3 separate regions of the Homo sapiens genome follow, and regions 2 and 3 are each linked to region 1. The links come from fine-mapping of genetic effects on plasma protein levels. A gene starts in region 1. Each other region holds a variant in brackets. All regions are shown on one strand. Distances are between the middles of the regions.

Region 1 (2,768 bases):
ACAAAAATGCCAAAAGCAATGGCAACAGAAGCCAAAATTGACAAATGGGATCTAATTAAACTAAAGAGCTTTTGCACAGCAAAAGAAACTATCATCAGAGTGAACAAGCAGCCTACAGAATGGGAGAAAATATTTGCAAACTATGCATCTGACAAAGGTCTCATATCCAGAATCCATAAGGAACTTAAACAAATTTACAGGAAAAAGACAAACTACCCCATCAAAAAGTGGGCAAAGGATATGAACAGACACTTCTCAAAAGAAGACATTTATGTAGCCAACAAACCTATGAAGAAAAGCTCACCATCACTGATCATCAGAGAAATGCAAATCAAAACCACAATGAGATACTATCTCGAGCCAGTTAGAATGGCAATTATTGAGAAGTCAGGAAACAACAGATGCTAGAGAGGATGTGGAGAAATAGGAACGCTTTTACACTGTCCGTGGGAATGTAATTAGTTCAACCATTGTGGAAGACAGTATGGAGATTCCTCAAGGATCTAGAACCAGAAATACCATTTGACCCAGCAGTCCCATTACTGGGTATATACCCAAAGGAGTATAAATCATTCTGCTATAAAGACACATACACACATATGTTTATCGCAGCACTGTTTACAATAGCAAAGACATGGAACCCACTCAAATGCCCATCAATGATAGACTGGATAAAGAAAATGTGGTACATATACACCATGGAATACTATGCAGCCATAATAAGGAACAAGATCATGTCTTTTGCATGGACATGTATGAAGCTAGAAGCCGTCATCCTCAGCAAACTACCACAGGAACAGAAAACCAGACACCACATGTTCTCACTCATAAGTGGGAGTTGAACATTGAGAACACATGGACACAAAGGGGAAACAACACACATCAGGGCCTGTTGGGAGGTTGGGGGTGAGGGGAGAGAACTTAGAGGATGGGTCAATAGGTACAGCAAAAGAAAAAAGAAAAACAAATTGACAGAAAAAATGGTAACAAAAATAAAAATAGGATAGTTTCCTTTTGGCTTACCTGAAGTGGCTATTTTAGCTATTAGTTCAAATATTTGTAAATTTTAAAATCTATCAAATTTTCTAGTGACAGCATGTGGAAGAGAAAGTTATTGAAAAGTCAGTTAGCTAATTTTTCAGACTGCAAATCACATATGTAGAATTATGGTTGTCTAGAAGTATGTTGTTTATGTTTATCATCAGTATATTTTTATAAGACAACTCATACATAATTAGAAGTAGTAACGGCTACATAAAATAGAGCATTTTCATTTAAAACAATTCTGATGGGGTAGCATGGAAGGAAGAAAATTTTGGTAGAATTTAGCTGGTTTCTAAGGAAGAGTAGAAGAGAAAACTGCCTCAGAAAAAATGAATAATGTGCCTGCAGTTTTAAACCTGAGTCTGAATACGTACATTTTGCTTAGAGCTGTGTGGAATCTGGGAAGCAAGTCTGTGTTTTCACTTTATGCACTGTTGGTTCTATTAATGAAAGCCACCAGGTGACTGGCAGTTTTCGGAGTCAAAGAAGCCTGTGTGTAGGATCTAGGGAGTCAGGTTTGAAAAAAAGATGTCAGCGACTTAAGACCCGTGTCACGTGACTCCCTCTACTTGCCAGCACTGAGGCTGTGGATCAAATTTCAACTCCAGGCAGTCCTTCCAGCCATGTGGGTTCAGCGGAAAGAGAAGCAAAACCACTCTTCCTAAAATGTTAGAAGCTGCTCTTCGCTTACCTTGGGGCCTTTGCATTGGGAGCTGTTTTTCACATCAAAGAATATGTGCTGAATGGAATTTTAGTATTTTGCTGTCGTTTTAATATTTTCGTCTGGTCTTCCTCAGTTCTTCCAGACGCTTTCTGAGAGAATGGGGGCAGGAGCTCTAGCCATCTGTGTAAGTATAGGCCTTCTTCTGTCTTCTGTGTTTACTGCCAGTTTTTAGGAGAGGGCCTTGCCTTCCTTGTTTTGATGAGATGTTTGTGTAACTTATTTTTCCTTCCCAGGAGGTGGGGAAAGATTTGTTACTTAAATTCCTATCTACTTAAATGGGTATTAGGCAGGATTTGGGATGGCATTCAGCATATTTGTGCACTTTAGTTTCCAAAAAAGGTGAAAGATGCATGCTGATTTATTCCGTTAAGTCAACTTGATTTAAAGTAGAGCACTTTCAAGCATTTTAGACTTTCTTGTCCCTGAATAGTTAAACATGAATGCTTCATTATAGCTATTAGAGAAATCTTGTGGCTAGCTTGAGGAGGAATTGAAGTAACCATTAATTTATTACTTTTGAGTATGTGTGTGACATTTTTCTGTTTTATATTTCTATTTTCGTTTAGTAATTCTGGAGTTTCTGTTTCAGCATGATTGCTGAAAGTGATGGTGGAGAAGCTCAGTTGATAAATGTTTGTGTATCCTTAAACTGTAGAAATGAATGGTTGTTATAACACAGTAGCATTAATAAATAACACTGAAATAAAATCCTTGGGAAAATGTGCATATTTCTGGAGTTTTAGAATTTTTAGAATTTATGAATTTCTAAATTATTCTGCTGGTGCTTGTACAAAACCTTTTGTAATAATCAAAAATTGTCAATTATATAATTTGCAGAATGCTGTAATTTAAATTTTGATTGTACTATATAGAAAATGCATATATCTGTATGAGAATTACACATATTTATGTTTCAAGTTGCTATTGTATTCCATAGGGACATTTTATTTTCTAGAATGTATTAAATGAGAAATATCTTCTTCCTTATTATCACCTTAAC
Region 2 (2,768 bases), 46 kb after region 1:
CATAAATCCATCCTCATAATAACAGATTAAATTGTTTTCTTGGTATTCTGTCACAAGTCAATGCTACATTTCTTTTTTTTTTAATGTTGTTGTAGGCCTTTGAATTATATCCTGTGTAAACAGCAAGTGATTTCATAGTTGAATGTGCTTAAAATTTTTCAGATCAAAGTCCTCTCTTCCATGCTTTATAGGATGGAGTTCTGGAGCCCTAAGTATTTTTTCAGACATTTAGGCTAAACCAAACTGCCAGTGAGAACAGTCTGGATGTCTGTAAGCATCCCTGACCCTTAACATCTTGTAGATGAACAGTGGCCCTCCATGGGAGAAAACTGTTTAAATTCATTCATTTCTATAACAAATTATACACTTTGGATGTGTCTGATGTCTGAAGCTCTGAGATTCTATGGGTTTTAGTTAGCAAATCAGTATACCTGCATGACAGATTTTTATCAAAGACTTCTTTCTCTATTTTATTTCTTCCAGAACCTTTCACTTCTTTCAGAGGCCTCACAATACCTCTCAGAGGTTTAGACAATTTATATTTAAGAGACACACTCGAAGGGACCTTCAGTGATCATCCTTTCCTATTGCCATGTTAGGCTTCTCTCTGACTGCAGCAACTCATCTTCCTTAATCAAGGTTTATAGTATGATTATCTCAGCTTGGTGTATTCCATGCCTTTTGATCTTTTATCCTTATGTTGGTAGGGCAGTAGTATATGTACTTTTTATTTTTGTAATCTCATGTGTGTTTTGGAAATAGGTGTGAATTGTAAGCCATAAAAAGATTGCAGAAGAGGATTCATTTAATTTAGGATTAACTAGAAATATTTTTAATTGACTGTTTCCTGTGGAAAATTCTTCTCTAATATAAATGTAAGTAGTTCTAGATCATAGTTGAGTATTTTTATTGTTATTTGATGACTTGGAATTAGATCATCCATCAGTATTTTTTTTAGTAACTTCTAAATAGATACTGAGTAATACAAAGAAATGAAAAATTAAACATCTTGATTTTAAGGAGTGTGTGATTTAATTGAGGAAGTAGAAGATATGTTGTATATATTCTACAATAGTGCTTTAAATGAACAATAAAAACATCCAGTCAGTGGTAACTAACAAGGAGGGAAGAAAACCAGCCTGGATTATGGTGGTCAGAAAACACTTTGTGGGAAAAATAAGATTGGAGACAACATTAACTTGTATGGAGAGGAAAATCTTTTAAGTGAGTTAAGGACATGAGCAAAAACACGGTAAGACAGAGTTATCTGACAGAGCTATCTGTAGCTAGAAGAGATTAGCAAAAGATACCATTGAAAAAGTAGGTTGAGGTTAGGTGGTATAGGGTCTTGAATATTAGTGTTAAATTAATATTTATATATAAATAATAAAATGTTTAAGAAAGATCTCACATAATAGAAGCAGTATGTTAGGCAGTGCTGTGTAAGATGGTTAGATGGGAAGATGCTACATGCAGAGAGAACATCTAGAAGGCTAACAGAAATCTAGGTCATAGTCCTATAACCATCTGTATCAGATAAATAGTGGACAATGAAAATTTTTTAAATTGTTGTAAATATATACGTAACATAGCATTTACCATTTTAACCATTTTTAAGTACAATTCAGGGACATCAAGTATAATCTCAGTGTTGTGCAACCATCACCACTATCCAGTGCCAATACTTTCTTTGTCATCATTCCAAAAAGAAACTCATCATGGGATTT[T/CCCTT]AAAGGAAGGTTACCAGAGACAGACAGAAAACATGAAGAGAACATCGTAGCTGGTAATTATTAAGATAATGAGGATGGCCAGGCATGGTGGCTTACACCTGCAATCCCAGCATTTTGGGAGGCCGAGATGGGAGGATCACCTGAGGTCAGGAGTTTGAGGGCAGCCTGGCCAACATGAGGAAACCCTGTCTCTACTAAAAATACAAAAATTAGCCAGGCGTGGTGGCAGGTGCCTGTAATCCCAGCTACTCAGAAGGCTGAGGCAGGAAAATCGCTTGAGCCAGGAGGTGGAGGTTGCAGTGAACCGAGATCGCACCACTGCACTCCAGCCTGGGCAACAGAGCAAGACTCCATCTCAGAAAAAAAAAGAAAAGATAATGAGGGTAAGAAAAGTCAGAGGTTTTGAGATGACCTGAGAAACTGTGTTAGGAAGGGGTAGTCTGGTGGCCTGACCCTGGTGTCTGTACCTTTGATGGGGTCCACAGAACCACATGATGGCAGAGGGCCAGTTTATCAGATGGTTGTGAATACATACTAATAATGAGAAAGAAATTTGTGAGGTGAGTTGTAGTAGCACCAGGGAAAGATCCCTGCAAACTTAGTGTTTAGATAAGGCCAGAGGCAACTACTGTTCCTTTGTCTTCAGTTATTCAAATCTTTTCTTTTCTATCTGTACACAGGGTAGCACCTTTACATTTTAAAGTGCTTCAGCTCCTCAGACCTGATCTTTTGTCCTGAAAGGAAGAGACAGTCTTCAACTTTCTAGGAACTTTCTGTGGCTGCCTAATGCTCTTTCCCTACCTCCAGGCAAATTTGGGACTTAGCCCAAAGGCTTAGGTGCTGTCTGTTACACTTGGTAGTGTCAACCTTAAATGATGAAATTCAGAAAATATGATTAAGTTTAGAGTTTATTCGGTACAAAGCCTGGGGATAACCACTCGGGAAACACAGACTCCAAAGGAATGGGGACAGAGGTTCAAAGTAGAGAGGTTAAAGTTTTACTTATATAGGCAGAGGCAGAGTAGTTTAGCAGGGTTACAA
Region 3 (2,768 bases), 360 kb after region 1:
TGGGAAGCCAGTCAAGTGCCGCGAAAGCAGGAGGCGGGGCCGCGGCCAACGTCATTCCCGCGGCCGCACGTCACCGCCACTTGCCGCATCCGCAAGATCTCTCTGGACCAGCTCGGGTGCAGGGCCTCTGCGGGAGCCCTCCTAGACCTCTGCGGCTTCTCCTCTAACATGGCCGACTCGGAAAACCAGGGGCCTGCGGAGCCTAGCCAGGCGGCGGCAGCGGCGGAGGCAGCGGCAGAGGAGGTAATGGCGGAAGGCGGTGCGCAGGGTGGAGACTGTGACAGCGCGGCTGGTGACCCTGACAGCGCGGCTGGTCAGATGGCTGAGGAGCCCCAGACCCCTGCAGAGAATGCCCCAAAGCCGAAAAATGACTTTATCGAGAGCCTGCCTAATTCGGTGAAATGCCGAGTCCTGGCCCTCAAAAAGCTGCAGAAGCGATGCGATAAGATAGAAGCCAAATTTGATAAGGAATTTCAGGCTCTGGAAAAAAAGTATAATGACATCTATAAGCCCCTACTCGCCAAGATCCAAGAGCTCACCGGCGAGATGGAGGGGTGTGCATGGACCTTGGAGGGGGAGGAGGAGGAGGAAGAGGAGTACGAGGATGACGAGGAGGAGGGGGAAGACGAGGAGGAGGAGGAGGCTGCGGCAGAGGCTGCCGCGGGGGCCAAACATGACGATGCCCACGCCGAGATGCCTGATGACGCCAAGAAGTAAGGGGGGCAGAGATGGATGAAGAGAAAGCCCACGAAGAAAAAAGCCTGGTTTTGTTTTTCCCAGAATATCGATGGACTTAAAAAGGCTCAGGTTTTTGACCAAAATACAATGTGAATTTATTCTGACATTCCTAAAATAGATTAAATTAAAGCAATTAGATCCTGGCCAGCTCGATTCAAATTTGACTTTCATTTTGAACATAATAAATATATCAAAAGGTGTTAAAGAAAACTGAATTAAACCCAAAATTATGTTTTCATGGTCTCTTCTCTGAGGATTGAGGTTTACAAAGGGTGTTAGCAGATGCGAAGTAAAGAACGTCACTTTGAAACCCATTCATCACACAGCATACGCTACACATGGAACACCCAAGCCATGACTGAACACGTTCTCAGTGCTTAATTCTTAAATTTCTTTACTCATGACATTTCGCAGTGCAGAGAAGGCAGAACCCAAGAAAAACGTCATCTTTGAGACTTTGCTTTTGTAACGCAGACATCAGCTTTACACTTCACAGGAGATTGATGGCATTGAGGAAGATTGCAATGGAGATCATGACACTACTGTTAATAAGGCCAGGAAAACTGCCATTTCAAGTTCTGAAAAATGTTTTGAGTATTTGAATTTAGAGAAACAACATGGTTCCAAGAAGGAGGGTGTAAAACCTGTAAAATACTGTCAACATATGTATTCATTAGTTACAATCTCATGTTTGTGTTTTCTTAGTACTGTCTATTTACAAACACGTAAAAAATACCCCAAATATGTTTAAGTATTAAATCACTTTACCTAGCGTTTTAGAAATATTAATTTACTTGAAGAGATGTAGAATGTAGCAAATTATGTAAAGCATGTGTATCCAGCGTTATGTACTTTGCGCCTTGTGACGTCTTTCTGTCATGTAGCTTTTAGGGT[G/T]TAGCTGTGAAAATCATCAGAACTCTTCACTGAAGCTAATGTTTGGAAAAAATATATACTTGAAGAACCAATCCAAGTGTGTGCCCCTACCCCCAGCTCAGAAGTAGAAAGGGTTTAAGTTTGCTTGTATTAGCTGTGCCTTCATTATTTTGCTATGTAAATGTGACATATTAATTATAAAATGGTGCATAATCAAATTTTACTGCTTGAGGACAGATGCATACAGTAAGGATTTTTAGGAAGAATATATTTAATGTAAAGACTCTTAGCTTCTGTGTGGGTTTTGAATTATGTGTGAGCCAGTGATCTATAAAGAAACATAAGCTTAAAGTTGTTTATCACTGTGGTGTTAATAAAACAGTATTTTCAAAAAATATATATAAAAGACTCGGTACTGTGACTGCCTGCATTCAAATCCCAGCTCTGCCTCCTATTAGTAATGTACCTTAGGCAACTCAGCTAATACTCTCAGTGGCCAGTTTCTCCTCATCTACAAAAGGGAATAGGAATAGTCCCTTCCTCATGGGTTACTATGAAGAGCAAATGGATTAATACATATAAATCCTATAGAATAGCATCCAAACCATGGTAAGTGCTGAATAATTCTTAGCTATTATTATTACATGAAAGATAAAGACAGTGATTGGAAATTCAATCCTCCTCTCCTGTTACAAAATGGGAGAAAGAGACATCACTACATCCCTCCCTATGTTTTTGATTCCTTATTATGAGAGAAGAATGTGGCCTTTAATTCAGAAATGCAGGAAATTAAATAAACTATCTTGTTTTGGTTTCCTCAATATAATATCAGGTTTTTATCATCTCCCAGAAAGGATAAAAAAGGCTATTTCAACTTTATGTTTGCTTCATTCTGAATGAAGCAGAAAGTTTTTTTTAAAAACTGGACTCCAGAAAAATTAAAAAATCAGATGCCATTTGCTTCCTTTTCCCTGAAGGGTTAAAATTACAAAGAAGCAAAATTATATTGCTTTATCCTAGGGAATGGAAGGCAGCACTGACCTGTTGCTAATCACAACAGATTGTTGAGTACAAACAACCTTAAGGTAAAGTTAATCTTCATTATGCTCAGGCCAACCAAAAGAGAAAATCAGAATAATACGTTACATACAAAGTTC

Which allele goes with the higher level. Positions count from the first base shown, and alleles are read on the strand shown. Strength reflects both the effect of a copy and how common the allele is.
For the plasma level of the protein whose gene starts at base 1,645 in region 1, allele CCCTT in region 2 goes with a lower level than allele T (moderate association).
With allele G in place of T in region 3, the plasma level of the protein whose gene starts at base 1,645 in region 1 is lower (moderate association).

What was found. A credible set is the group of variants that fine-mapping cannot tell apart. PIP is the posterior inclusion probability: the model's chance that the variant is causal. The UK Biobank Pharma Proteomics Project read protein levels with antibody pairs (Olink). The fine-mapping took linkage between variants from a reference panel, not from the people measured, so its PIPs are less certain.
Region 2: its variant is the best candidate, but not a certain one, in a credible set for the plasma level of the FAM13A protein (UK Biobank, PIP 0.70).
Region 3: its variant is the best candidate, but not a certain one, in a credible set for the plasma level of the FAM13A protein (UK Biobank, PIP 0.61).

The regions. Positions count from the first base shown.
Region 1 is chr4:89,056,062-89,058,829 of GRCh38, reverse strand. It overlaps FAM13A (family with sequence similarity 13 member A), which reads left to right and starts at 1,645. Exons shown (of 24, transcript NM_014883.4): 1 at 1,645-1,892. The coding sequence starts at 1,866. RefSeq lists an enhancer at 1,782-2,344.
Region 2 is chr4:89,010,183-89,012,950 of GRCh38, reverse strand. The region is part of intron 3 of FAM13A (family with sequence similarity 13 member A); the gene reads left to right. Among named protein-coding and RNA genes, the nearest start is that of FAM13A, 46 kb to the left of the region's middle. The variant T/CCCTT (reference allele first, on the strand shown) is at 1,728.
Region 3 is chr4:88,695,155-88,697,922 of GRCh38, reverse strand. All of the region lies in intron 23 of HERC3 (HECT and RLD domain containing E3 ubiquitin protein ligase 3), which reads right to left. It overlaps NAP1L5 (nucleosome assembly protein 1 like 5), which reads left to right and starts at 94. Exons shown (of 1, transcript NM_153757.4): 1 at 94-2,010. The coding sequence starts at 169. The coding sequence ends at 717. RefSeq lists an enhancer at 1-4. The variant G/T (reference allele first, on the strand shown) is at 1,633.